4 linked regions of the Homo sapiens genome follow. The protein of the gene in region 1 interacts with the protein of each later gene in a pairwise test. Each region holds a gene or a part of one and is shown on either strand. Other genes may lie near its edges. The genes, in order: FA2H, TMEM41A, ERLIN1 and SYT2.

What was found.
Region 2: the proteins of FA2H (region 1) and TMEM41A interact in binary tests that used the Homo sapiens proteins (3 or more experiments, as listed by UniProt).
Region 3: the proteins of FA2H (region 1) and ERLIN1 interact in binary tests that used the Homo sapiens proteins (3 or more experiments, as listed by UniProt).
Region 4: the proteins of FA2H (region 1) and SYT2 interact in binary tests that used the Homo sapiens proteins (3 or more experiments, as listed by UniProt).

What each region holds. Positions count from the first base shown.
Region 1 is NC_000016.10:74,715,796-74,722,821, reverse strand, and holds part of FA2H (fatty acid 2-hydroxylase), read left to right. Parts: intron 1-3,661; coding exon 3,662-3,834; intron 3,835-4,248; coding exon of another isoform or gene 4,249-4,572; exon of another isoform or gene 4,573-6,222; coding exon 6,223-6,475; intron 6,476-7,026. UniProt on the Homo sapiens protein: Catalyzes the hydroxylation of free fatty acids at the C-2 position to produce 2-hydroxy fatty acids, which are building blocks of sphingolipids and glycosphingolipids common in neural tissue and epidermis.
Region 2 is NC_000003.12:185,489,088-185,496,048, reverse strand, and holds the end of TMEM41A (transmembrane protein 41A precursor), read left to right. Parts: intron 1-733; coding exon 734-895; intron 896-1,287; coding exon 1,288-1,426; intron 1,427-4,291; coding exon 4,292-4,512; 3' UTR 4,513-6,448; downstream 6,449-6,961.
Region 3 is NC_000010.11:100,169,010-100,176,035, forward strand, and holds part of ERLIN1 (erlin-1), read right to left. Parts: coding exon 6,936-7,026; intron 5,273-6,935; coding exon 5,199-5,272; intron 1-5,198. UniProt on the Homo sapiens protein: Component of the ERLIN1/ERLIN2 complex which mediates the endoplasmic reticulum-associated degradation (ERAD) of inositol 1,4,5-trisphosphate receptors (IP3Rs).
Region 4 is NC_000001.11:202,595,455-202,602,480, reverse strand, and holds part of SYT2 (synaptotagmin-2), read left to right. Parts: coding exon 1-103; intron 104-423; coding exon 424-591; intron 592-2,006; coding exon 2,007-2,124; intron 2,125-3,129; coding exon 3,130-3,263; intron 3,264-5,517; coding exon 5,518-5,724; 3' UTR 5,725-7,026. UniProt on the Homo sapiens protein: Exhibits calcium-dependent phospholipid and inositol polyphosphate binding properties. May have a regulatory role in the membrane interactions during trafficking of synaptic vesicles at the active zone of the synapse.

The sequences.
Region 1 (7,026 bases):
CTCCTGCCTCAGCCTCCCAGGTAACTGGGATTACAGGCATGCACCACCATGACCGGCTAATTTTTGTATTTTTAGAGACGGAAGTTTCTCCATGTTGGTCAGGCTGGTCTCGAACTCCTGACCTCAGCTGATCCGCCCACCTCAGCCTCCCAAAGTGCTGCAATTACAGGCATGAGCCACTGCATCCGGCCCAGAAGACAGATTTTTAAGGACTTGACAAGCCAATGGGAAGTGGCAAAGTGGAGCCATGAGTCCAACCTACGTTTTCTTTTCTTTTTTTCTTTTTGAGACAGGGTCTTGCTCTGTCATCCAGGCTGGAGTGCAATGGTGCAATCACAGCTCACTGCAGGCTTGAACTGCTGGGCTCAAGTGATCCCCCTGCCTCAGCCTCCTCAGTAGCTGGGACTATAGGCATGAGCCACCATGCCCAGCTAATTTTTTTACTTTTTGTTGAGGCGGGGTCTCACTGTGTTGCCCAGGCTGGCCTCAAACTCCTGGGCTCAAACGATCCTCCCACCTCAGCCTCTCAAAGTGCTGGGATTACAGGCATGAGCCCCCATGTTCAGCCTAGCCTGACTTTTTAGGAGCCTTGATGATGAAGGGGCTGAGTCCATGATGGGAAAGTCTTGCCTACCTCAGAAAGATGAGCAGAAGAGCCAGGAGAAAAGGAGAGACTGAAGGAGCCCAGAGGAGTCCCTTGGGAGGGAGGGTGGGAGGAGGCGGCTGAGGGCTTTGCACTGCCGAGCAGGGGGAGCCTGGCAAGTCATGGACTTTGGGCCTCCACGTCCTCAATCATGCAGGCAATGCAGGGCTTCCCTTGTAAGGCTGTGGTGAGATGAAATAGGAAGTAATCCATGGAAGGCCCTTGGGCGGTGCCTGGCACACAGGAATCAGTCAGGACACATCTGCCGTTACTGTTGCTCTGATCATCCAGCGCCCGCGTGCCGGTGCACACCTCTTCCCTGAGAAGCAAGGAGGATGCGCCAGGGTACCGGCAGAATGTGGTGTGCTTGGAAGTTGGGGGAAGTATGTGGAGGGGATAGTTCCTCCCCAACCCCAGGGCCTCTCTTCTCTGTGAAGTAGGAAGCTGGGTGGAAGGAGAGGCAGTAAAGGGGAGTAGAGCGTGTTCAAGGGCAGTGGGGAGGGAGCTGAACTTGAAGATGCACAGGGATCATCCATCAGGCTGTGTCTAGGGTCTTGCAGAGGTTAAAGGTGCCAGACCCACAGCTGTGTGAGTCTCCATGCTCAGCAGCTTGGGTATGGGGTACAAAGGCAGGTTCCTGCGCTGACCCAGGGGTGAGGGTTCATGGGTGCAGGTGAGGGAGATGGAGTAAGGGTTAAAAGAGAACGGCTAGGCCAAGCATGATGGCTCACTCCTGTAATCCCAGCCCTTTGGGAGGCCAAGGTGGGTGGATCATTTGAGGTCAGGAGCTCAAGACCAGCCTGACCAACATGTTGAAACTCTGTCTCTACTAAAAATACAAAAATTAGTTGGGCATGGTGGCGCACACCTATAATCCCAGCTACCCGGGAGGCTGAGGCAGGAGAATCACTTGAACCCGTGAGGTGGAGGCTGCAGTGAGCCGAGATCGTCCCATTGCACTCCAGCCTGGGTGACAAGAGCGAAACTCTGCCTCACAAAAAAAAAAGAGAGAGAGAATGGCTAGCTTTGGAAAACAGTCTGGCTATTCTTCAAAAGGTTAAACATAGAGTTATGATATGAACCAACAGTACCACTCCTGGGCTTGTACCCAAGAGAAAGGACAACATCTTTTCACACTGAAACCTCTACACGAATGTGCATAGCAGCACTATTCACAATAGCCAAGAGCTACAAACAGCCCAGGTGTCCCTCAACTGATGGATGGATGAATAAAGTTTGAATATCATTCAGTCTTAAAAAGGAATGGAGTTGTAATACATGTTACAACATGGGTGAATGTTGAACATATTCGGTAAGAGAAGCCGGTCATAAAAGACCATATGTCATATGATTCAATTGACGTGAAATGTCCAGAATAGGCAAATCCAACAAAGAGGAAGTAGACCTGTAGCTTCCTAGGGTTGGGAGGGTCTGAGAAGAAATGGGGAGTGGCTGCTAATGGGTACAGGGGCTTGGCGGGGAAGTGATAAAAATGTTGTAAAATTGACTGGGGTGACGGTTTAACAACTTTGTGAGTGTACTAAAAAGCACTGAATTATATATTTTATTTGGATGAATTATATGGATGTGAATTAGATTTAGATAAAGCCGTTAAGAAGAGAGAAGATATGGCCAAAGCTATGGTTTGTAGAGAAAAGAAACAAAGATAAGAGGATGAGGATGGGCTGGGCACGGTGGCTCATATCTGTAATCCCAGCACTTTGGGAGGCTGAGGAGGGCAGATCACTTGAGGTCAGGATTTCAAGACCAGCCTGGATAATATGGTGAAACCCCCTCTCTACTAAAAATATAAAAATTAGCCAGGTGTGGTGGCACACACCTGTAATCCCGGCTACTCAGGAGACTGAGGCAGGAGAATCACTTGAACCCGGGAGGTGGAGGTTGCAGTGAGCTGAGATCACACCACTGCACTCCAGCCTAGGCAACAGAGCAAGACTCTATCTCACAAAAAAAAAAAAAAAAAAAAAAAAAAAAAAAGGATGAGGATGAATATATGGAGCAAACAGGAATGAGAGCTGAAATCTCCATGAGGTCAAAGAATGAATGAGGTGGAGGAAAGAGCTGAAAGCCGCTAGGACTGCAGGCTGTCTCCGGAGGGTGGTGGGAAGCATGTGCTTGAAGATGGTGCCCTGTCTCCAGTCTTCTCCTCTCCACCTAGGCTGATCATCTTCAGTGTTTTCACATCTTCCTCCTGTGCTATGATTTCAGGTCTTGTCTGTTGAGATCTCGGTGCTTGTTTTTTCTTGTCCTTCCTGCCCCATGGTCCCTGGTGGGTCACACTTCCCATCATTAACACCCTGGAGGCCAGGCACAGTGGCTCCCTTCTGTTATCTCAGCACTTTGGGAGGCCAAGGCGAGAGAATTGCTTGAGTCTGGGAGTTTGAGACCAGCCTGGGCAACATAGCAAGATCTCGTCTCTACAAAAAAAATAAAAATAAAAAATAAATTTAAAATTAGCTGGGTGCGGTGGCATGCACCTGTGGTCCCAGCTACTTGAGAAGCTGAGGTGGAAGGATCGCTTGAGCCCAGGAAGGGAAGGCTGCAGTAAGCTGTAATCACACCACTGCCCTCCAGCACTCCAGCACTCCAGTCTTCCAACCTGGGCGACACAGAGATACCTTGTCTCAAGATAATAATAACAACGCCCTGGCTCAGGAGTGTCGCCTTCTCTTCTCCAATGTCCTTGGGGCAAGGTCACCCTTCCAGGTAAAGGCCCAGCCCCAGCCACAGCCACTCCTCCCACAGCCTCTGTAAGGAGGATGTCAGGCCTCCAGCCAGTGGCCCATCACTCCTGTAAAGGACTTCCCAGACCCAGACCAGAGTCCTACAGCCTCCTTCCCATTTTGACTCAAGGACCCCAGCAGTATGGCCTGGCCCTGTAGCTGTCCAACAGAGGGCAGCAGCTCCCGAGCTGATGGGGATGGTGAGGCAGGGACACCTGGAGCTACCAGGCTGCTATGCACCGGTCCTCACCTCGCTCTCCCTGCCACCCTGCAGAGTACACGGTGGCAGTGCCCAAGTCCATGTTCCCCGGGCTCTTCATGCTGGGGACATTCCTCTGGAGCCTCATCGAGTACCTCATCCACCGCTTCCTGTTCCACATGAAGCCCCCCAGCGACAGCTATTACCTCATCATGCTGCACTTCGTCATGCACGGCCAGCACCACAAGGTGAGCGGGGCGGGGTCCCAGCCCGGACCTAGCATGTGCAGCCCGAGAGGGCCCGGCAGCCAGCCGCAGCTTCAGGTGCTGCGGAGCCTCCTGGGAGTCTGGCTGTGGGTTGGGAGGGACGGGACGTTTGATGTGACTCACGGGGCAACTGGGTTGGGCATCCGAACCTAAGCCAGGCGGGGACAGCGTGGGTGTGCAGCATCAAGCTGACCCCAGGCCCTCTGCACCCTTGTTTACGCATCACCTTTAATCCTCAAAACAACTCATTCATTCGTTCATTCATTCAGCAAATGCCCAGTGAGTGCCTCCTGTGTGCGAGACACTGTTCTAGACATCATTGAACAAAACAACAAAAAGCCTTGCGCTCCTGGAGCTTGTGCTGAAAACAGCCCCATGGTTCTCCCCGTTCCACAGAGCAGGAGACTGAGGCCTAGGAGGACTAAGGAACTTGCCCCAGGTCACACTTGGCACAGCCAGGATGTCGTACCCCATTCTGGGGATTCCAGAGTCTGCGCTCTCAATCACCCTTCCCCTGAGGCCCTTCAAGGACTCCACGACAGTCCCAGAAGCTGGCCCGAGAAGATAGGTCTGCCCAAAGGAAGCTACCTCCCCTGTACCCCCCGCTGCTTCTCTGTCCCTGCATTGTGCTGTCCTTGGCCCATCCCAGGCTGTTCCCCAGCCCGTCTCCACACTCTGTTCTCTGCTGGGCATAAATCAGAGAAAATATGGCAGATATGATACTTTCGGGACACCAGTTTAGACCCTGATGTCGCTGATACTGAACGTGGGTTTCACCTTGGTTTCCCAGCAGCAACTTAATCCGGTTCATCTCGATGAGCCGATTCGGGGTTTGATCGGCCGCCTGGGACAGTTCTCAGGTTGGTTGGCTGTGGTCCTCCCGGCTCTCCCCAGAGTTGATCTGCATCCTAGGGGGCTTTCCTAGGGGCCAGTATCAGGGTGGGTGCCCAGTCCTGGGCCAACCTGTCTCTCAGGTATGCTCTCAGAGGTAGCGCAGCCCAGGCCTGGCCTGTGTCCTCCAGCCTCACCTGGCCTCTGCTCTGCAGAGCTCACTGCATCTGCTTCTGTGTCCCTTGCCCTGTTTGTGAAGCCTTTTCAGATCCACTGCCCTGTCCGCTATCTTTCCCATCCACAGGGGACACCAGAACCTTCTGGGAACCTGCTCAGGCCATTCTGGGGCCCCAGGGGCTGTCTCAGGCTCCCTCTTTTGAGACACTTCCACCCCAGTCTGTCCAGTCCCCTGCTGCCACACCATGAGGACCCGAGGAGACTGTATGGCCTGTAGCCACGTGGGCTCCAATCAGGAACGTGTTCTCAGATCCCCAGACCTATCCATCTAAGGATCCTGATCCAGCTGTGACCCGGATCTGGCCCATACCAGCTCACAAGAGCACCCATGCACATCCTTTCCTGTTTCTGTTCCAGTGACGCCACCTCAGCGCTTGAAAGCGCCAGGGCAGTTTTCACACTGCAGGAATTGGCAAACACTACCAATCAGGGCTCTCCCTCCCTCCCTTTATTTCCCCCTCCCTCATTCCCCAGCTCTCTCCCTTCCTCCTTTTCCTGAGAGCTGGTTTTCCAGCACATCACTGGTCCTGTTGTTCCTGGTCTGAAGGGAGGGAGGCCCACGCCAGCATCTCATTGTGTCACTGTCACCTGCTTTCTCTCTCTCTCCTCCAGCCCAGAGAGGCTGCAGGATTCTCTTCTCAGACTCCTCACCAAGCCATAGCTAAGATCTCACCTCTATGCCAGGCCCTTGGCTTCTGAAGCTCGAGGGCCACGGTGAAGCGGTGTTCTCTGGTTCACTGTGGCGACACCCCCTTGGAACAAAAAAGGCCTCCTGTTTGGACATGGGGGTGGGGAGGACACCTCTAGTGACACTTCCGGGTCATCCCGCCACAGAGGCTGCATTAACCTCAGTTGCCCTCAGTGCCTTGCTCTCCCAGACAACATCAGGCCTCAGTCTAGGTGCCCTGTCTCCAGAATGCCCCTCTAGCCAGGGGCACGGCATTTAGGGATGGGATACCTGTCTAGCACCTGACAAATTCCAGAGTCACAGTGGCCTCTATAAGATGGGCTCTGAGCCGCCAGCACACCCCACCCATCCTGCCCATCCTGCCCATCCCGCCCATCCCATGTTCCTTTGCAATCTGCCAGGTCCCTTCCTGGCTCACAAATGGGAAGTAAGACAGTCTCTCCAGATCTTCCAGACGTGGTGGCCCGCCCTCCCCAAAGCCACCAAAGGTGCCAAGCCTACGCAGTGGAATGTCTGGGCCGCTGTGCCCCTGTCCTCTGCAGGGAGTGGCCAGGGTTTGGCCAGCTGCCGGGGCCCCTGGCTGCCTCCTGATGCCCAAGCCTCTCCATCTGCAGGCACCCTTCGACGGCTCCCGCCTGGTCTTCCCCCCTGTGCCAGCCTCCCTGGTGATCGGCGTCTTCTACTTGTGCATGCAGCTCATCCTGCCCGAGGCAGTAGGGGGCACTGTGTTTGCGGGGGGCCTCCTGGGCTACGTCCTCTATGACATGACCCATTACTACCTGCACTTTGGCTCGCCGCACAAGGGCTCCTACCTGTACAGCCTGAAGGCCCACCACGTCAAGCACCACTTTGCACATCAGAAGTCAGGTGAGGATGGGCCTGTGCTTCCCAGCCCCCTATGTGTGTTCATTGATTTATTTGCCAACTACCATCGAGCTCCTGGGAACGGCAAGGCACTGTTCCATGTACGGGGCATATACAGAGGGTTCCCTCTACTCTCTTCCCTGGTGCAGACAGCTGTGCAGAGACAGGCAAGGACATCAATAAATGGCAAAGATTTCAAACTGTGATAAATGCCATAAAGAAAATAAAGGGGCTGGGTGTGGTGGCTCACACCTGTAATCCCAGCCGAGGGGATTGGGAAGCCGAGGCAGGTAGATCACTTGAGGTCAGGAGTTTGGGACCAGCCTGGCCAACATGGTGAAACCTGTCTCCACTAGAAATACAAAAATTAGCGGGGTGTGGTTGTGCCCACCTATAATCTCAGCTACTTGGGAGGCTGAGGCATGAGAATAGCTTGAATCCAGGAGGCAGAAGCTACAGTGAGCTAAGATTGCACCACTGCACTCCAGCCTGGGCAACAGAGCAAGGCTCTGTCTATAAAAAAAAAAAAAAAAAGAAGAAGAAGAAGAAAGTAA
Region 2 (6,961 bases), on another chromosome or scaffold:
CATAGATGTAATTCCAGCAAAAAGCAAAGAAACAAGACATCTTACATAGCTTGTGTGGTCTTACCAAGGGAAAATTCATGGTTTGTGTTCATCTTTTGAAATAGTAAAAATAACTCGTGAGTTTCATTTCTACTTTCTTGGAGCCCCAGTCATTGCAGAATCTACCACAGCCACAGATCCCATTTCATTCTCTCCTGCCCCCTGAGGCTTTTATCCTTATCCTCATTTTCAAGGTGAAGAGACTGACGGCAGGTGTAGTTCCCAGCCTTTTCATAATTTTTCATTCACCTCTTTAAATGGCAATTGGGACCTGGGGCAGTGGCTCACGCCTGTAATCCTAGCACTTTGGGAGGCTGAGGTGGGAGGATCACTTGAGTCCGGGAGTTTGAAACCAGCCTGGGCAACACAGTGAGACCCCATCTCCACAAAAAATTTTAAAAAGTGGGTGAATGTGGTGGTGTGTGCCTACAGTCCTAGCTGCTTGGGAGGCTGAGGCAGGAGGATCGCTTGAGTCCAGGAGTTCGAGGATGCAGTGAGCTATGATCATGTCACTGTACTCCAGCCTGGGTGACAGAGCGAGATCCTGTTTCTTAAAAATAAATAAATAACGCAATTGGGTTTTAGCTGGAAAAAAGCAGTGAAGGAGGAGGGAACCTATGACTCTCAGGCTCCAAGATGACGTGCCTGGTAGCTGCCAGATGTTCACATGCCTGAGGGTTTGTTTTATTTGCAGAATGTTTTAGCTGGTGCCTTGTTTGGGCCATGGCTGGGGCTTCTGCTGTGCTGTGTGTTGACCTCGGTGGGTGCCACATGCTGCTACCTGCTCTCCAGTATTTTTGGCAAACAGTTGGTGGTGTCCTACTTTCCTGATAAAGTGGCCCTGCTGCAGAGAAAGGTAAGGGGAGGGGTCACATCTGAGAGCTGGGACCCCAGACAGTCGCTACGTGCATGGCCTTGAGAGAAGCGAGTGGCAGGGATTTCCCACAGTACTCTTCCACGCTGTTTCAGGAGGTCCTAGGGGTTCTTTTGATGTCTTCAGGAGACATAGACCTGGGATCAAATCCCAGCTCCATCATTACCAGCTCTGTGACTTTGGGCAAGTTCTTGACTTCTCTGATCCTCAGCATGTCTATTTTAAAATGAGGAAAACAGTCTTTCCCTGGAGGGTTGTTGGAAGAATTGGGAACAGATTATGTAAAGTGTCTAGAACAGTGCCTGGCACCAGCAGGTTTTCAACACCTGGAGACCCTTTCTGCTTCTTAACAGCTTTCTTCTCTTTGGCTACAGGTGGAGGAGAACAGAAACAGCTTGTTTTTTTTCTTATTGTTTTTGAGACTTTTCCCCATGACACCAAACTGGTTCTTGAACCTCTCGGCCCCAATTCTGAACATTCCCATCGTGCAGTTCTTCTTCTCAGTTCTTATCGGTAAGATGCTAGTGGGGTAGGTTTGAGTCTTCAGAGCTGTCACGCTGGGGGTCTGCCCTGGGTTATTGGCCACGTGAGCATGTGCCTGCTTCTGAGAACACAGGCTCACAAAGTGTGACTTCAAGCCTTATGATCTAAAGAAATGATTCCTGATTTCAGATCTGCTCAGGCTTCAACATGAAAACCCATAAAAATACTTTTGGACTAAATAAAGATTGTCCATTGCATGGCTGTATGCACTAGGCACTGGGATTAGAAGAGATGGTCTGTGTAAAGTATACAAATTGGCCCATAGTAAGTACTCAGTAAATGCTAGCAGGAAGAGCAGGGTTGGAATGAGGGTGTGTGTCCATGAGTTTTGAGTGGGGACAGAAGAAAGGAGCAGAGCAAGGGACTTCCTGTCTGGTTTTTGGCCCCTGTTTTGATTAAGTTCTGCCTTAGGAATTGCTGGCATCAGTGTGGTTCCTTCCTGCCTTTTGACAATTGCACAACCTGCAGCAAGCTACTTACCCTCAATGGACCACCTGGCTAGGAATAGAGCAGTGTTTCTCAAAGTGTGGGCTTTGGGCCACCTTCATCAGATTGTTAGGGTCAGGGGGCTTGTTGAGAATCTAGATTTGGGGCCTACTCCAGACCTACTGAATCAGAATCTTGGGAGTGGAATCTGGGAATATGCATTTTAATCCAGTTCCTAGTCAGTCATTTTCAAACTGCAAACCCAGTCATTCTCAAACTGCAAACCTATTAAGAATCGCCTGCAAACCTATTAAAAATCACTTGGAGGCCGGGCTGAGTGGCTCACACCTGTAATCCCAGCACTTTGGGAGGTTGAGGCGGGTGGATCACTTGAGGTTGGGAGTTCAAGACCAGCCTGGCCAACATGGTGAAACCCCATCTCTACTAAAAATACAAAAATTAGCCTGACATGGTGGTGTGCGTCTGTAATTCAACTACTTGGGAGGCTGAGGCAGGAGAATGGCTTGAACCTGGGAGGCGGAGGTTGCAGTAAGCTGAGAGGATGACACTTCACTCCAGCCTGGGTGACAGAGTGAGGCTCCATCTCAAGAAAAAAAGCAAAAAAACAAAAACAAACAAAACAACAAAACATCACCTGTGGAGATTTTAATCCCTAAGCTAAGGCTACACCACACATCAACTAAATCATCTCTGGGGTAGGACTCAGGGATCAGGATCTTTTAACATTTTCCAGGTGATGCAAGTAGTTAGTCCCTAAAAGGGATTCCGCTGGATCCTGAGTTTTGCAGTCTACTGAATTAGACGATATCTAAAGTTTCTCCTTGCCTTTGACAATTATATGACCTGCAGCGAGCTACTTAGTCTGAACGGGCTACTCGTCCAGATAAGGGGCTGGGACTAGAGCAGTGTTTCTTGAAGTATGGGCCTTGGACCACCTTTATCAGAGTGGTAAAGTGCTAACATCCTATAAAATCAGTGTTTGCTACTTTCTCCATACTGGAAGAAAACCACCCTCCTTAAGCCTAAGGCAAGGATCTCTTCTCTTAAACCTCCCTTAGATCCTAGAGGGAAAGACGATTCAGGGCTTCTAGGTCAAACAGAGCAAATCTGTGGTTGAGCAGCTGCTATTCATAGGAGATACCTGAGAGAAATGGAGATCTTAAATAGAAGCAAGATCTACCACGGCCAATTTTGGTCATATTGGCTTTCAGACAAAGTGCCTCAGGCCCTCAGCTAGTGGGGGTTTGCTGCTTCTAATTACCTAGGTGGCATGAGGCTTGGCAAGATTCTGGAGACCAGGCTTCCTGTCCTCTGTCTCACAAGCTGTGTGACCCTGAGGGGTCTGGGATCTTCATCTCCTGTATACTTCCTCTCCTATAGAAGAGAAATGGACTATCAGAGTGTTCCAAACCAATCGGAATCTCAGGGTGGGAGTGGAGAAGGGGCTTTTAAAATACAGGTTCCTGGGCACTACCCCAGAACCAAGTACCCAGAATTTCTGGGGTGGAGCCCAAGGATGTGGTTTTTTAACAATGTCACCAGCTGATTGTTCTGCAGCCAGCCTGTTCAGCCAGCCAGACTTTTGGAATCCAGTGGATTTGATGACATCTTTGAGACAGTACAGAATGTGAATAGTACTTCTTTTAAAAAACTGTTTGTCAACAATGGCACTTCTCTCTTTACTTTGGCTGTTGGGTACTCAGAACCAAATTTGGGGCCCACTTTTGGCAAACAGGTGAACCTTATGCATTTTTTTACTAACTGTACTCCCTGATGTCTTGTATTCTTCTGCACGCATTTTGCTTTTCCTATTTAAAATTTTATTTATTTATTTATTTATTTTTGAGACAGAGTCTAGCTCTATCGCCTGGGCTGAAGTGCAGTGGTAAGATCTTGGCTCACTGCCACCTCTGCCTCCCAGGTTCCAGTGATTCTCCTGCCTCAGCCTCCTGAGTAGCTAGGATTACAGGCACATGCCACCACACCCGGCTAATTTTTGTGTTTTTAGTAGAGACGGGGTTTCACCATGTTGGCCAGGCTGATCTCGAACTCCTGACCTCAGGTGATCCACCTCGGCCTCCCAAAGTGCTGGGATTACAAGCATAAGCCACCATTCCTGGCCCTATTTTAAAATTGTCTTATAGTAGCATGTATTATTTGTGTAAATATCTCAAGTTCTTTTGTTGAACAAGACAGGCATATATGGGAAGTGAGGAAAGGAGGGAAAATAATAGAAAAGAAGGAAAGAAGGGAAAGAGTTAATATGTATAAGGGTCAAGAGTCAAGCAAAAAAAAACCGTAGTCACTGTTCCTGGTGACATTCTGAATTATTATTTTCTTAATTTTGCTGCTGCTTGTAACAGGTGCTTTGTCCTTTTCTTCTTCCAGGTTTGATCCCATATAATTTCATCTGTGTGCAGACAGGGTCCATCCTGTCAACCCTAACCTCTCTGGATGCTCTTTTCTCCTGGGACACTGTCTTTAAGCTGTTGGCCATTGCCATGGTGGCATTAATTCCTGGAACCCTCATTAAAAAATTTAGTCAGAAACATCTGCAATTGAATGAAACAAGTACTGCTAATCATATACACAGTAGAAAAGACACATGATCTGGATTTTCTGTTTGCCACATCCCTGGACTCAGTTGCTTATTTGTGTAATGGATGTGGTCCTCTAAAGCCCCTCATTGTTTTTGATTGCCTTCTATAGGTGATGTGGACACTGTGCATCAATGTGCAGTGTCTTTTCAGAAAGGACACTCTGCTCTTGAAGGTGTATTACATCAGGTTTTCAAACCAGCCCTGGTGTAGCAGACACTGCAACAGATGCCTCCTAGAAAATGCTGTTTGTGGCCGGGCGCGGTGGCTCACGCCTGTAATCCCAGCACTTTGGGAGGCCGAGGCCGGTGATTCACAAGGTCAGGAGTTCAAGACCAGCCTGGCCAAGATGGTGAAATCCTGTCTCTAATAAAAATACAAAAATTAGCCAGGCGTGGTGGCAGGCACCTGTAATCCCAGCTACTCGGGAGGCTGAGGCAGGAGAATTGCTTGAACCAAGGTGGCAGAGGTTGCAGTAAGCCAAGATCACACCACTGCACTCCAGCCTGGGTGATAGAGTGAGACACTGTCTTGACAAAAAAAAAAAAAAAAAGAGAAAAAAAGAAAATGCTGTTTGTATTTTGTGGTCTAATAAGGAGTTCGGGATAGCCTGTTGTATTTGCCTCATGCCAGCCCCTGAGCTGCCTTGGGAGAAGATGCTGATTGTCCTTGTCCAGAGTACTGCTTTTGCAGAGTGACAGGCTGCTGGGACAGATGTCCTCCTGTTGCATCTTTGTGGATGTTTAGTACCAATGATGACACGGGAACTCACATCACTGACACCGCTCTTCATCTTCTGTTAGTCTCTTGAAGAGCATTTTTTTGTACTTCTTTGCTGATGACCTACCTCTTCATAAGCCAAGTGAAACAAGTTGACGAACTGCCTAGGACTTCCACGTGTTGCTCACATACATGATGATTTCTGTCACGCTCTTGTGTTCAGACACACTGACATTACCATGTATGTCAGACCTCCTTATGATCGCATGTCCTGACAGTTAAGCTGATTGCAAACAGACTATTAAATATGAATGGAGCAAACGCTGTATGTCATGGATATGTTCTGGAGAAATTCTTACCCATCTGGATGGGGCAGGGCCCTTGACTCACCTGAATCATGACCAGGCAAACATTTTATCTGTCCTTTCTGCAGGAATCCGTTCTGTGTCATGCTAGGAGAATGGGTTCAGTATATGGGGCCATCAGGCAGTATACCCTCTGAATGTTTTTCATTGTTGTATTTGCTTAGAGTAACTAAACAATTGTATCTTTTAATTTATCTTTTAATTCAAAGAGGAAACCTTGGCTTCTGATAACTTTGTTGTGTTGTATCTTAATGGCCTATAGCTGTCATTACTTCCTGTAGCTGCAGTACAGAATTGTTACAGACCTGGATTAATGCTTCCAAAGACAGAAGGACCTTGGCACCTAAACTGACCAGCCCTGTGATCCTGCACCCCACAGGAGTAACTCATCAGGACTTACCAGACTGCTGCTTTTGGGCATCATCTGCTGGGTTGATGATTTGGTTTGGCCAAGAGTCTTGCCAAGACTTTAATCTATGCCTCTTGTTCTACATGAATTCTTGGGAATTACTCACGTTCCATAGGAAGAGTGCATCCCCAGGTGATGGTTTTTGGTTATGGTATGATCCTTTCACACCGAGGATTTCATTGTTTAAAACGTGTTTCTTTAAAAGAAGCCTTGATAACGAGAGTGGGGGAAGGAGGCAGCAGACTTTGAAGACTGTGGCCTTTGGTGTTCTGGAGTAGGGGGAGGGAAGGAGAAACATGTTTTCCACATCATCGCAAGTGTGTGCCCTTTGCCCCTTTTCAGGATCCTTAGAGTTGCCTCCCTCCCTCCACCCCGACAGTTTTGCAATAATGTGCCTTATCAGTTGTGAGTTTACAGGTGAAGCAATTTCCCAAATAAATGGATGTAAGTGTTCTGTGTGGTGCTTGTTTGAACATGTTGCTAACTTTCAACTACCTTTGCCAGTGGGAATTAGGATTGGCTGAAAATTGGACAGTCCAAAATGGTGTTTTAAGCTTTCCACTCTCAATGCTTCTTACCAAAATAATTTCTCAGAAGCCAGATTTTCATCTTCATTTTCTCTCTCTGCTCCCTGTATAGTGGGGTCAGTAGTAACAGGAGTAGCTACCGGATGGGCAGCAGGAAAGCATAGGGAAGAAGCAGAGTGCCAGTCTAGCTTTTACAGAATACTCAAGAAGAGGCTGTCACCAAATAAAATGATGATTGCCCCTTCCTTTCGTGGCTGTGTCAAATACAAGAATCGCAGAAACTAGCTTTCTCCATTACCTGCTTTTTGTGGCTGCAGGAAACCCAGTCATGGAAAGTCTTCCTTTCCCTCAAGTTCTGACAAATGCTGAGATTATTAAGGCAGCTCTCAGGGCACAAACAGTACATTTAGAAAAAGACAGGACTAGAAAACAGTGAAGTA
Region 3 (7,026 bases), on another chromosome or scaffold:
TTGCTGAATGAGGCTGAAGAACATACTACATTGTGCTTGCCAATCTTGGGAAATCTCACAGATTTTCAAATATGTGAAAACATAAACACTTACTGTACAGATACCATGAGTAAGTTGCATCAAAAGAGATTTTAAAAGTAAAAGTGGGAAGTCCCACTCAGGCACCCCTCTCCCTCACAGGAGAGAGAGCTATTCTCCTTTCTGTTTCTTTTGCCTATTAAACCTCTGCTCTTAACCTCAAATAATAAAATAATGCCCCCATCCCACTCACATACATAGAGTGAATGGAGGAAAAAAATGGCTAATGAAAGGAATATATGTATTGAAACTGACCCCTGGGTTTTAAGCATATATTATATATCAAAAGCCAGTCTATAATATAGTCACTCCCTTAAATAACATAGGAAAAAAAAAATCAAAGATGACCATTTTCATCATTCTAATTTGCCAGAGTAGTTTTTCAAGAAGAAAAATGGTATATAAATATATGGAAAGGAAAAAAATATAATAGTGACTGTAAAAATAGTAACCCAAAAATTACTAGAAGGCAGTGAATTCAAGTTGTAGATATAAGATAAATCTACCAAGAATCAATCACATTCCTCAATGATTAAAAAAAAAAAAGACTACATATTGAACAGCATTAAAATTCATTAAATCCATTGGTATTAATTTAACTTAGGATATGAGTTTCTCCCCTAAATCAGAAATTCTAAAAACCAAAAAGGCTGATATGATAAAGTAAAGCCATAAACTATGTTTCTATTTTTAACTTATATTGGAGGATTGCATGAGGCCAGGAGTTTGAGACCAGCCTGGGCAACACGGCAAAGGCCCATCTCTACAAAAAATAAAAAAATTAGCCAGATGTGGGGGTGTGTACCTGTACTCCTAGCTACTTGGGAGGCTAAGGCAGGAGAATCACTTGAGCCCAGGAGTTCAAGGCTGCAGTGACCTATGATCATGCCACTGCACTCCAGCCTGGGCAACAGAGGGAGACCCTGTCTCAAAACAAAACAAAACAAAACAACATGTATATGACCACTTAGGTGCCTGATATAGCTTGAAAATATCGATAATGAAAACTCATCTGGAAGATTAAGCTGGCAGAAACAGCAAAGGCCATTATTTTTTAAAAGATGATGTCTCTTGCCAGATTTTAAAATAAAAAGTTGAATTATCACAACCATATGGTAATGTGTTAAAAATAACAAAGCTCAAAAACAGCCTTGAAATTCTTAAAATGCATTCCAACTATTGTAAAAAAAATTTTATAACAAGACAAAAGCAACCAAAGCAAAGGAGCTCTTCTCTTCTCAGGGTATGCTTAAGTTATTGCAAAATATAAAAATTATTTTAAAATTTTTTTAAACCCTAAAACAATGGAGATCTCTACCACTTTAAGAACGTATAACAAAACTACATTTTTTCAATCAATAACTTTTTATAAAAACAGCAAATAAATATAAGTAAATTCAAAAGATCCTTCTGGCTGTTGTGCAGAAAATGAAGTAGACAAAGGTAAAAGTGAAAGTGGGGAAAGAAGACAGGCGGCTACTGCTACTGCACATGTCAAGGTTAGAGTTGGTAGCTTGGCTTGAGATGACAGTGAAGATGGAGGTGTGGTCAGTTTTATTAATACATGGATTTTGGTGGTGGAATCTGCAGGACATAGGGACTGATTAGATGCTGAGGGTGAGGCGATTGTCAAAGATGCCTCCTACACTTCTAGATTGGCTTGAGGGGAAAGAGTTACCATTAACTGACAAGATGAAAAACACAGGAGAAAATTCGATTTGATGAGAAAAGACCAAGGACTCAATAACTAATGAAAGAGTAGGAATGGGAAGATCAATGGAACAGAACTAAGTTCAGAAAAAGACTCTAGTATATAATGGAATGCAGTATGTAACATAAAAACTATTTCAAAGAAGGGGGAAGATGGAAAAATAAACTATTCAGTAATTACCGCTGTTACCCAATTTGGGGTTGAGGGGATGGAGCTGAAGGCCTACCTTGCAACTGAGATCAAAATGGGTTGCAGATGAATTAAAAGATTTAAATCTAAGAATACAACTGTAAAAGCAGATACAATTTTTATAATTTCTAATTTTAATTGCTATACTTTTAAGGTGGTGAAAAGCTCTTAAAACATGCCAGCTCAGCAACACACCATAAAGACAAAATCACTGAAATTACTATGTAAAACATGAACACTTCAAAGTTATCAGCAAGGAAAAAACAAAGTTAAATGACAAAGAAAAAATTTGAAGAAAATGTTTCCTATAAATATAAAAAAGAGCTACAATAACTAACATATGAAAAAGTTTATTTTTAAAAACGAATTCTACCCCTCTCAAAGGGTAAGGTTCAAAAACAAGTTCTCTATATACAAATGCTATTTATTTATTTATTTATAGACAGGGTTTTGCTCTGTTGCCCAGACAAGAGTACAGCATGAACACAGTTCACTGCAGCCTCAACCTGCTGTGTTCAAGTCATCCTCCCACCTCAGCCTCCCAAGTAGCTGGGACTACAGGCACATGCCACCACACCTACCTAATTTTTTAAAAAAATTTTTTGTGGAGAAGGGGTCTCACTATGTTGTCCAAGCTGACCTCAAACTCCTGGGCTCAAGGGAGCTTTCCACCTCAGCCTCCTAAAGTGGTGGGATTACAGATGTGAGCCGCTATGCCCAGCCAAAAATAGCTTATTAAAATCAGTTAGAAAAACCATTAACTACAAAAATGAGCAAAACCAACAATTTATAAATGAAATAAAAACAGCTAATAACCTAGGGTATTCAACTTCAATAATTAACACAAAATAACAGACTAATTTTCTCCAAAAGGATTAAGAGAGAAAGGGAAAGCTTGCATCTGCTAATTATTTGGGTACAATCATGCAATCAAATGTGTAAGAACTACAGCTTACCAACACTGCTAATGAGGGGGGGAGCTGCTAAAATTTTTCTAAAAGGTGATTCGGTAGTATGTATCAATAAGCCCCCAAACAGGGCATACACTTTGATCATCAATCCCACTTCAAGAATTTATTGTAAGAGAGGGATTTAAAAAGATGTACAGAATATATAAGCTTGGTCATTCCAACATGCATACAGTAGTAAAAAATTTGAAACCATAGAGATTCACTAAATATAACCATTAAAAGTAATGATTTACCAAACCTATATTTTTGTTTTGGAAAGATGTTCATAGACAATGTTAGTGAAAAAAGCAAGTATGGTATGATTCTGCTTTAGTTGAGCATGTATGCATTTATATCTACAAACATTTGTTCATATACATTAAGAATAGTCGAGAAAGATATAACAAATGATGTTATCCCTGCATAATAAGATTACTGGTGAATTTCATTTTATTCTTCATCATTTTCCTAGTATCTAACTTTTTTCTACAACATAAATAACGTGTGTGTATAAAAATTCCAAATTTATACAGAACAAATCAGTAAGAAAGAAAACAATCCAACAGAAAAATGGGCAAAAGATATGAATAGGCAATCAGCAGAAGACAGTATAAATGACCAATAAATGTATCAAAAGATGTTCAACCTCATTAACAACCAAAGGAATGCAAATCAAAGGGAGATATAATTGCCCACCCATCCATATGGTAACAATCAGTATGTCTGATTGCTTCCAATGTTGGTGAGTTCATGGGTCACAATTATTTGCACATATTGCTGTTAAGAATGTACATTTGTACAGTCAGTTTGAAAGATAATTTGTACATACAAGAACATGTGTCATGAATGTTCATTACACTATTGTTTAATAGCAAAAAACTGGGAACAGAAAAATGGCTAAGTAATATAAGGCAAGGAATTCTAAACAACAGTTGAATGAGCTAGATCTCTGAGTAACACCCTGGGCAGAATCTAAGAGCTGACCTTCACATTCACTATCTTTAAAACTAAAAAGCTACTCCAGCTACAACTGACTTGAACAACTCAGAGGATTTTACAAAGTTACCTCTGGACATTTCAAACGACCCCTTAACTCTGGTGGCTCACCCTCAAGCGCCTGAGATAATGACATTGCATGAATGAGGCCATGAGGAAAACCCCACCTATCTTTCAGTCTTGTTTTTGAGAAGCACGAACACATACAATCACAGTGAGCGCACACTCTCAGTAGCAGTGGTGCTGAGTGTAAAGAATTGAGAGACATGTGATAAGCTTTAGTTGCAGTAATGTTCATCACAACAATCAACAATCAACTGGTCTCCTAGAGCTCCTGAGAAAGGACACTAGAGAAGCCTCAATATAACTTCTTAGGTCATCTGGATCCAGAGCAGTGGCTTTCGAATGTTACTGACAGTGGACACAGTAAGAAACACATTTTGCACTGACGTCCAATATAAACACCTACCCCGCCACACTGTGAAACACAAGTGTCACAGAATATTTAAACTTATTACATACCATTTCTTTTCCTATTCTATTCCATTTTATTTAAAATGCTGTTCATGACTCACTAAAGTTGATTTTACAACCCACAATCTGGAAAACACAGTGACCCAAAAAAAAGCAGGGGTAAAACCTCTCACCATTCTATTTCCCAACGTCACCATCACCACTACCACTAAATTCACCTGCTACCTTGTTTTTACTAGGGCTGTCCCTCCCACTTGAAATACCTTTCTCATTCTTCCCCCATTTAAATCCAATTAATTTTTCCAAACCTACTTAAAATCTCAACTCAATCACAGCCCTCTCCTAGACACACTGTCTTCCAATGTTCTCTTACTCTTACAGCAATAATCATTCAATAGATTCATCTGTCAATTAATACTTTGTGATAACTATTTTGTCCAGGATTGTTCAAATTTTACACTTGAACTCCCTTTTCATAATCTTACTGAGGGCAGGGATTATGCTTACACTGATTTATAACCATTACTGTATCTTAATGCTTCATACATGGCAGAAATATGAATTTTACTTCCTTGTAAGAGCCTCAGCTTATCAGTTCCCTCTAGGAGTTCACAAATGTCACCCATAGTAAGCTACAAGAGTATTTTATTTTGGCAGAGATCTAAAGTCAAATTGAGAAAGGTATTCTATAAATCACCATAGCATCTCAAATAATTGCTGAATAAAACAATCCAATGAAAGGAGGAACAAACTCAAAGCTCTCAAAATCCCCAGAGAACTTCCCTAGGAAAAGAACTTACCTGTATAGTGAGACCTGGGGCCATGAGGTTTAAGTCTTTCTGCAGAGCTTGCTTCAGGTTTTCATCTATTTGATCTGTTTTTTAAGCCAAGAACAACAGATCTCATGATAGTCAATTTTTTTTACATTGTATTCATAATGAAACAAAACTAATCATTATTAGACCTAAAGTTTCCACAGTACTATTCTTTTACAGAGCTTAAACTGCCTTTTCTTCCCTTTTGTGTGGGAAAAAAATTGCAAGGAATTATCTAATAAAGAAATTAAGGAACGAAGATGACAAGCAGATAGTCTGTTTATCCAATAAGTTTACCCACTAAATGTATTACTTAACTATGGATAAGCTTTTTTACTGGGTAACTTATTAGACTTATTTACTGGATAAACAACTACTGGGTAAAATATGTTGATCTAATAAATGGAGAATCTGGATCTCTAGTATCTTAATTCAGGGCTCTTACTCAATATGTATCCTCATTCTCAAAGAAAAACAAATTTCTATGTTCAGTAAATCTTTACTCAAATTCCCAAATAACTAAACTTCATTTCCATGGATCTCAGCCTCACTGTTATTTTGGATTTAAAGAGAGAGAGAGAGAGAGACAGAGAGAGAAGCTCATAGAAAAGTATTTGAAATATACACAGCATGAACACTTGGGCTTGTAACTATGCACTTTCTATTCACCTCAATGGTACTTTCGCTATTTAAATGACTGGTGGTGAGACAAAGCAGGACCCATCAGTTTCCTCACATGCCACTTCAGTGGTTGACAATCACCAAAGAGGACTCAATTGGTAGATTTTAAATTGATTACTCTTGCTTATTCCTTCATCTTAGAAATTCACTAAAAATTTCAGGAGGGAAAAGTGAGCTACCAACAGCAACAACTCATTCCCTGGTCAGAACTTCCACTATCATAAATGAAAAGTAAGTTGTACAGAAGTGAGTTAAGAAAGCAGGGCTGATACTGCAATCCTTAGAAAGGCCTTTTGTAAACTCGTCCTTGGTTGGCACCTAGGAACTTGGATTTGTAGAAGGGTCCCACTATCCCCAGAGCTAATACAATTGACTTGCTGTGAACTGTTTATACAATGTGGCTTATGCCAAACACCTGCATTCCTTCCAGGAGTCTGGAATTTTTATGTGGTAGGCAGAGGGTGCCTACATAATCAGCCCCCAGTGAAAACCCTGGGCAATGAGTCTCCAATGAGCTTCCCTAGTAGACAACATTTCACATGTGTTGTCACAGCTTGTTGCTGTGGGAATTAGGCACATGTTTGACTCTTGGAAGCCTGCACCTGCTTTCCTCTGCATTTTGCTGGTGTGCCTTTGCCTCTCGCTGATTTTGCTTTGTACCCTTTGGCTGTAATAAATCTTAGCTGTGAACACAACTATGTGCTGAGTCCTGTCAGTCTCCTACCAAATCATCAAAAATGGGAGCCTCAAGACACAGGTTTCTAAATTTTTCAAATTATCTATTAAAACATCAACAAAGCTAATTTTCACTAAGTTATTACAGTAAAAACAGAATACAGTCTGAGTAGTTTTTCCAATCTCTAACAAGTTATATAAAAAATTTTAAACTTAAGATAAAAAATATTTTAAAGACAATTGCTCTATGATAAATTCAGAAGAAATGCTTAAATAGCACTAAGGTTTACCAATATAACCTCAATAAGTAAGCTGAACAAAGATTTCCAATTGGCTATTTACATACATAAGAATTAAGACACTTACCAAACAATTCAATGTAAACTTCCTGAAGTGTGTGGGCACTGCAGAACTGGTTCAGCTCATGGTGGATTTTATTGAAGATTAAGGTCTTGTC
Region 4 (7,026 bases), on another chromosome or scaffold:
TTATGTCAAGGTCTTCCTCCTTCCTGACAAGAAGAAGAAATATGAGACCAAAGTCCATCGGAAGACACTGAACCCTGCCTTCAATGAAACCTTCACCTTCAAGGTGCTGAGGGCTGGAAGGGTGACTCCAGCTCCCTGCCTGATCCCAATTCTCTGCTGAGTTCTACAGACCTTTCCTTGGTCCTTAGCCATGGCTCAGCCTGGAACAATGGCAGCCTTGACTGCAGGGCTACCCCGGCCTCTATGGAGGATCGGGATCCCTCCCACCCCACCCTCACACTCTGCTCCCCAAAAGCCTTGGTCTTTGTCTGTCTCGGCACACTAACCTGGACCCTGTGGGCTGGAATGCAGGCCCCTGCCCATAGCACCCCTGGAGGTGCGTGAGTCGCTCTGGCCCCCTCTGATTCTGCTTGTGCCCTGCAGGTGCCATACCAGGAGCTTGGGGGCAAAACTCTGGTGATGGCCATCTATGACTTTGACCGCTTCTCCAAACATGACATCATTGGAGAGGTAAAGGTGCCTATGAACACAGTGGACCTCGGCCAGCCCATTGAGGAGTGGAGAGACCTGCAAGGCGGGGAAAAGGAGGAGGTAAGAGCAGAGATGAGGCCAGGTTGGGCAGAAAGACGAATGTACAGGTGGGCTTCCACCTCTTGGCATGATGGAAACAGGGTGGGCTTTGGAGGCAGACGACCTGTGTTAGGATCCCAGCTCCACACTGCCTGGCTGTGTGACCCTGGGCAAGTTGCTTACACTCTCTGGACTCGGGTTCCCTCCTTTAGTCTTTTTTTACAGATGAGGATTCATTACCTGCATAAAGCGCCTAGCGCAGCGACTGGTATTTGGTAGGTACTCAAATAAATAAAAACACCATTATTATTGTTACTCCTAAGCTTCTGCTATTACCTAAGGCCAGTGATTCACGCCTCTGTGCCTCAGTTCACCCACAAGAAAAGCTCATGTTTGTTCTAAAGGATACTCAGCAAAGGGACTTGTCCTCCCAGAACTGCTACAGCATCCATTCACTCACTAAATATTTGCTGAGCAATTGCTGTGTACCTAAAACTCCATTTTAGCCATTCTTCCTTCTGGGCATCAATCATTTGTCTTGGCCAGGGCCCTGCTACCTGGCACACTCTAGGCAGTGATGGAGGGCTGAGTAGAGAAGCTTAAGACATCCTTTTTTCCCTTTTGTCCCCTGTGCCTGGGAGGAAGGCCAGCACACCTGAACCAGGACCTGTGTGATGTCGTCAGTCTTGCCCTGGGTGGCTTTGACTTTGAGCAGCTTTGACTCTGCAGTGTGGTGTTGGCCTTAGGAATTAGGAGCCCTGGGTCCTCAGCCTGCCTACAGTGCTAAATTGTTGTGTGACTTTGAGCAAACCATGGCCTCTGGGAACCTCAGTTTCTCATTGGTTACAAAGAATTCTTGTCTTGTTTACATCAAAGAGTTGCAGTGATAGTAACAAAAGGGATGCAAATTGCTCCGAAAACCACAAATCATACTACAAGTGGAATGGTCCACAAGGAGAGATCTTGGTGGGTGGGACTGTTAAGGGAAAGAAGGCTTCTGAGACATTCAGTCCCCCAGGGCCCTTGGTGGTGGACACGTGGCTAACCCACCCGCTTCTCGCACACCTTCCCACCTTACCAGGGCCTGGGGTGGGAGCCCAAACATACTCCCAACCTCCCAGATCCCAGATCCACCCAGGGATCCCTCCCTCAGTCCTGCCACCGCAGCTGTCCTCTACCCCCCTCATCTGTCAGCATCCTCAGCCCACGGCTCCTGAGGTCCCAACCTGTCACTTTCAGGGACTTTGTTGCACTGCATCAGGGGGACCCAAGGTCAGATGCTGGAAGACCTTCTCGGCCATCACATATATGGGGACTGGTGATGAGGGAGGCAGGGACACATCACTGCCTTGCTAATTTTGGCAAGAAAGAGGTCAGCCATGAGAGAGGCACTAGGATGGGTGAGATGACCCAAGTCCTGCTCTTCCCCTGGACAGCCGGAGAAGCTGGGCGACATCTGCACCTCCCTGCGCTATGTGCCCACGGCCGGGAAGCTCACTGTCTGCATCCTGGAGGCTAAGAACCTCAAGAAGATGGACGTGGGCGGCCTTTCAGGTACGTGGAGAGCTTCTGGCTGCCATTGGGTGGCACCAGCGAGCCAGTCAGCACCAAGTCCCAGAGTTTGCACACTCCAGTGAAGAGGAACACTTTGCTGCCCTGGGACTGAGATGTCTCCTCGAGGAGCGGGGGAGCCTTAGCTTCCCAGGCCCTCCTTTTCTCCAAGGGCCCCTTGTCCCCATCAGAGCTGCCTTCCCAGCGCTCTCTGGCCATGCACTGTGGGCTACAGAGAAAAGGATCAGAGAAATTTCATCCCCAGATAAGTTTGTGACTTAGGATTTTACTTCTCCCAGGGAAATGAGCAGGGCTTAGCCCAAAGCATGACACCACAATCGAGACATGTTTCCAGAAGAGGCTGTAGGCTCTGCTGGCTCTGCCCTGGAAAGGGGAGGGTGAGGCAAGGGAGTGGAAGATGCTCTGAATATCACATTTACCTGGCAGTGAATGGGGCTGGCCCATGGCACAGGGCTCTAGTGGATGAAGCCTGCTGCCTCAGCTGCCTTCCCAGAGAATCAGCCCTGGGCATGGGCTCCAACCAGCGCGTTTCAGTGCCAGCCTGGCTCTGTCACTGACCCGCTGTGTGACCTCGGGCAGGTCATTTCCGTTCTTTGGCCTCAGTTTCTTGTCTGCAAGATTAGGGGGATCGGATTGGGATTATGACCCAGCAGATGTGTGTCCTGACTTCAGCACTCCCCACCCACTCCCCAGTACAGGATCACAGATGAATCCCCAGACTCTTTCTCACAAGGCCTTACTTAGACTCAGAAATGCCCTCCACCCAATGCTTCAGGAAGCCACAACCAACTGGTCACAGTTGGTCCTGGAGGTGAAGCCTTTTGCCACCTTTGAACTGGATGGCATGACTTGGGGCTTTCTGAGGGCCTGGTCTCAGCGGAGTGAAGACCCCCTCTTGACCGATGCTCTGGGCAGGCCTTGGTACATTCGGCAGGAAGGCTGGGGGCTAAGGGGAACCTCTCTGGGGTTGGGATTCTCCCTCCGCAGACCCGTACGTGAAGATCCACCTGATGCAGAATGGCAAGAGGCTCAAGAAGAAGAAGACAACCGTGAAGAAGAAGACCCTGAACCCATACTTCAACGAGTCCTTCAGCTTTGAGATCCCCTTCGAGCAGATTCAGGTGCTGGAGCCCTGGGTTCCTAGGCATGGAGCAGGGTTTGGGGAGGCAAACATGTATGGGGAGGTTGAAGAGAGGGAACTCACCTAGAGACCATGGAACAGCCTTTCTTGGTAGGGGAAGGCTCGAGGTCTAATGGTGCCTGGGTGGGGCCTCCTTCCCAAGTGCTTCAGGGATCCCCCTTTTCTGAGGAGATAAACATGAACTAATTCAAAAAATTCTGCAAATCATTCGTTTAGGACTTGAAGGACCATGGTCATGCACACAGATGTATGGGGGTATAGCAAAGGTGCCAGAGGGGTTGGGAGCTGGCTGAGAGGGTGGGAGTGGCCGCTGCCACCTCCATCCTCTCCAGCCACATCCTGTCTTGGCCATCCCTGCCCCACTTCCACTGCTCTCTAGGTCTTTCCCATCTACTCCTCTGATCTGCTTCCTCTCCTCTCTCCCTCCACCCTTCCAGCCTTCTCTATTTTTCCTTCCTTCTCACCAGCAAGTTCTGTAAATGTTGGAGATGAGGTCTGGTTTTCACCATTTCCAGGTATGAGTGGGATCTGGACGTGGTAGGACAAGAGACCCACCCACCCACCCATTTGGGCGGGAAGTCAGGCGCAGCTGGGGGCTTGCAGAGTGGTCGGTTATCATGGAGTCTTGGTCTCTCCTTCTTTGTAGTGAGCTGATCCCACCCCCTCTCCTCCCCGCAGGAGGGCTGGGGGCAAGGGTACAAGAGAATCTTCAGAGTTGGTTCTGTCATCTATGGAGATGTGTATGATGTTATTGATGGAATACTTCAAGGGAACACTGGGCAGCTCAGTGATAATGTTAATCCAAGAGAAGTCCTCATTACAGAGAATTTTAGATCTAGAGCATCCTGACCCAGGCATCTCAAATTCAACATGCCTAAAACCAATGTAATGTTCTTCTTCCTACCTCTTCCCAGCCAAGCCTGTTTCATCTGAATTCTGTTTTCAATGAATGACCCCACAGTCCATCATTTACCCAGTGGCCCAAGTCAGAAACCTGGGCGTCACCTTAGACTGACTATTTCCTTTTTCCTTTCTCATTTATCCAACATACTTTACTGAGCATTTCCTAAGTGGTAGGCTAGGGGATGAGGAAATAAGTGTGTAATCCACACACTCCTTGCTCTCAAGGACCTCACAGTGGGAGGGCACCAGTAAACAGTCTAGTAAAGCACAGTGAGACGACAGCTTCAATGTCCATGAAGCGGAGGACTGTAGTGAGGCTTCCCAGAGAGAGCTTGGTCCTGAAGGACAAATCTGAGTTGGCTGGAGTCACAGGGGAAAAAGGCATCGAGCATTCAGCAAATCCAGCTGATCATCAAGTCCTCTTGATTCTCTTCCTAAATACCTCTCCAACCTGGTTTTGACTTCCCATCCCCACTGTCCCTGCCTTGGTACAGGTATTCGGGATCCATCCTCCCAGACCCTCCAGCATCCTCCAATGGGTCTCTTCCCTGCCATTAGGCCCACTCCTCCTCCAGTAAATCTTCCAACTCAATGCCAGGGCTCTCTCTCTCAAATGTCCACGACACTCCTTTTCTTAAAGTCGTCAGGAGTCCCCTACTGCTTGCCTGAAAGACAAAATGCAGACTCCTTGGCTGACCCCAACCTACTCTACCAGCCTCATTTCCTGCCTCACTGCTTCTCACCCTATACCTCAATGACTGAACATCTAATGTTTCTCAGATGCCAAATGCACTCTCAGGTCTCTATGCCTCTACCCAAGCAAATCTGTTTTCCTGGAATCCTCTTCCTTCTTTTCTCCTCCTAGAGAAATTCTCAGACTTCATGTCCCAGTCACCTCTTCTGTGAAGCCTTTTCTGATTGGCCCCAGGACTGTCACCTCCTCTAAGTTTCCACAGTACCTTGTGCCCATCTCTCTAGCATAACCTTTATCAATTCATGTTGTAAGTTTTCAGTTACATGTCTGCTGATCTCATTGAGGAAGTGAAATTCATCTTTTCACTTTTCCTTCCCTCTTCTCCCCCTCCAAGTGCTTAACAGGGTCTAGAGCACAGTACATCCTCAATAAATGCCCAGTGGTAGAAACAAAGGCTGCCAAAGGCGTGGCCTCTGCCTCCATGTCAATTCAGTCTTCACTGGAGCAGAGATGAAACCAAGGAGCCCCAGGAGGCCTTACCTTCCCAATCATTGGGAGTAGAGGTTGATGGAGGATAAATTTGGTCATGGGATCCCACGTCTCTGTCTGCCAACTCCCTCCCTCGTTTTCCTTGCAGAAAGTCCAGGTAGTGGTCACCGTGCTGGACTATGACAAGCTGGGCAAGAACGAAGCCATAGGCAAGATCTTCGTGGGCAGCAATGCCACGGGCACAGAGCTGCGGCACTGGTCCGACATGCTGGCCAACCCCCGGAGGCCCATCGCCCAGTGGCACTCGCTCAAGCCTGAGGAGGAGGTGGATGCACTCCTGGGCAAGAACAAGTAGACAGCAGCGGCTGGGACCCCACACCTTTCACGGACACTGACAAGATCCAGAGCTATCAATACCTCAGTTATGCAACCTTAGAGGTTTTCTTTTTTCTTTCATTTGTTGGGTGGTTGTGTCCTTGTTTTTCCTTGTTTTTCTCTTTTTAAAGACCAACTTCCCTTTGATGGCTGTGTGAGGAGAGTCCCCTAAGAGGTGAAAGAGAAGCCTGGCTCTGTTCACGGTCCCAGGAGCTGTCCTTGCTGCATGCCCTGTCACAGTTCCCTCGACTCTTTCAAAGCTTCACATCTGCCTCACCCCAAGCGAGGCTCTCTACTGGCACAAACTTGCAGCAGTTCCTGTTTTTTGAGCCTTCTGGACCAACAAAATGGCAGCACATCCTGCTTCCTGACAGGGAAGGCATCACAGTGGCCAATGATCGTGTGTGTGTGTGTGTGTGTGTGTGTGTATGTGTGTGTGTGTGTGTGTGTGTGTGTGTGTGTGTGTGTCTTTGAGCATTTCTCTTCATTCCTGGAATGTGTGTGTGTGTGTGTCTCTTTGAGCATCTCTCTTCATTCCTGGAATGAGCCATGGACAGTAAAGTTGTGTGGGAAAAGAAGGCTCTTTGGGGACCCTGACATGAAGAAGTCCACTAAGTGGGAGATCTTCTCTCATCTATGGCAAAGTCTCAGGATCCTGTTCAGATATCGGGGCTTTCATACTCCTGTTGGTGGCTATTTGGGAGGCAGCAAGATGTGAAGACTGGATGTGTTCAGAACTAGGACCAAACGATGCCATCAAATACTTCCTCCTGCCAGTCATGGTTTCCCCAGAAGTGTAGTTCCTGGGACATTCATGGATATGAGCTATTCACTAGTTGGGTCAGACTAACAGGGACTCTCAGTCCCAAAATCTCACTCTTATTGACAATAAATATCAAACTATGAAGAAACAGAAGTCCCATTACCAGAAAGACCAAAATTAAACTCCTGGATCTTCACCCCATCCAGTGGGAAACACAGATGCTTTCTCCCTTTCCAGAATATAAGCAGCCAAGTTCATTTGCATTTATTCCCCATTGTGCTTTTGCTTCTGTTTCTCTTTTAAGTGGAGCAACACTGTCTGAAGACACGTTATCTGTGCAGAGCCAGAGAACTTTAAAAGGAAAGTTTAAATGTTCTTAGTTCTCCTGAGGTCCAGGTAAGAAGGGGGTGGTAAGAAGAGGATGGGGGACAGATGGCTGAGATCCCTTGGGAGGAGATATAGGGGAGCACTGGAATTCCCCCGACTCCCACTCCTTGCTCCCTTGGCCCTCTGCCCTCC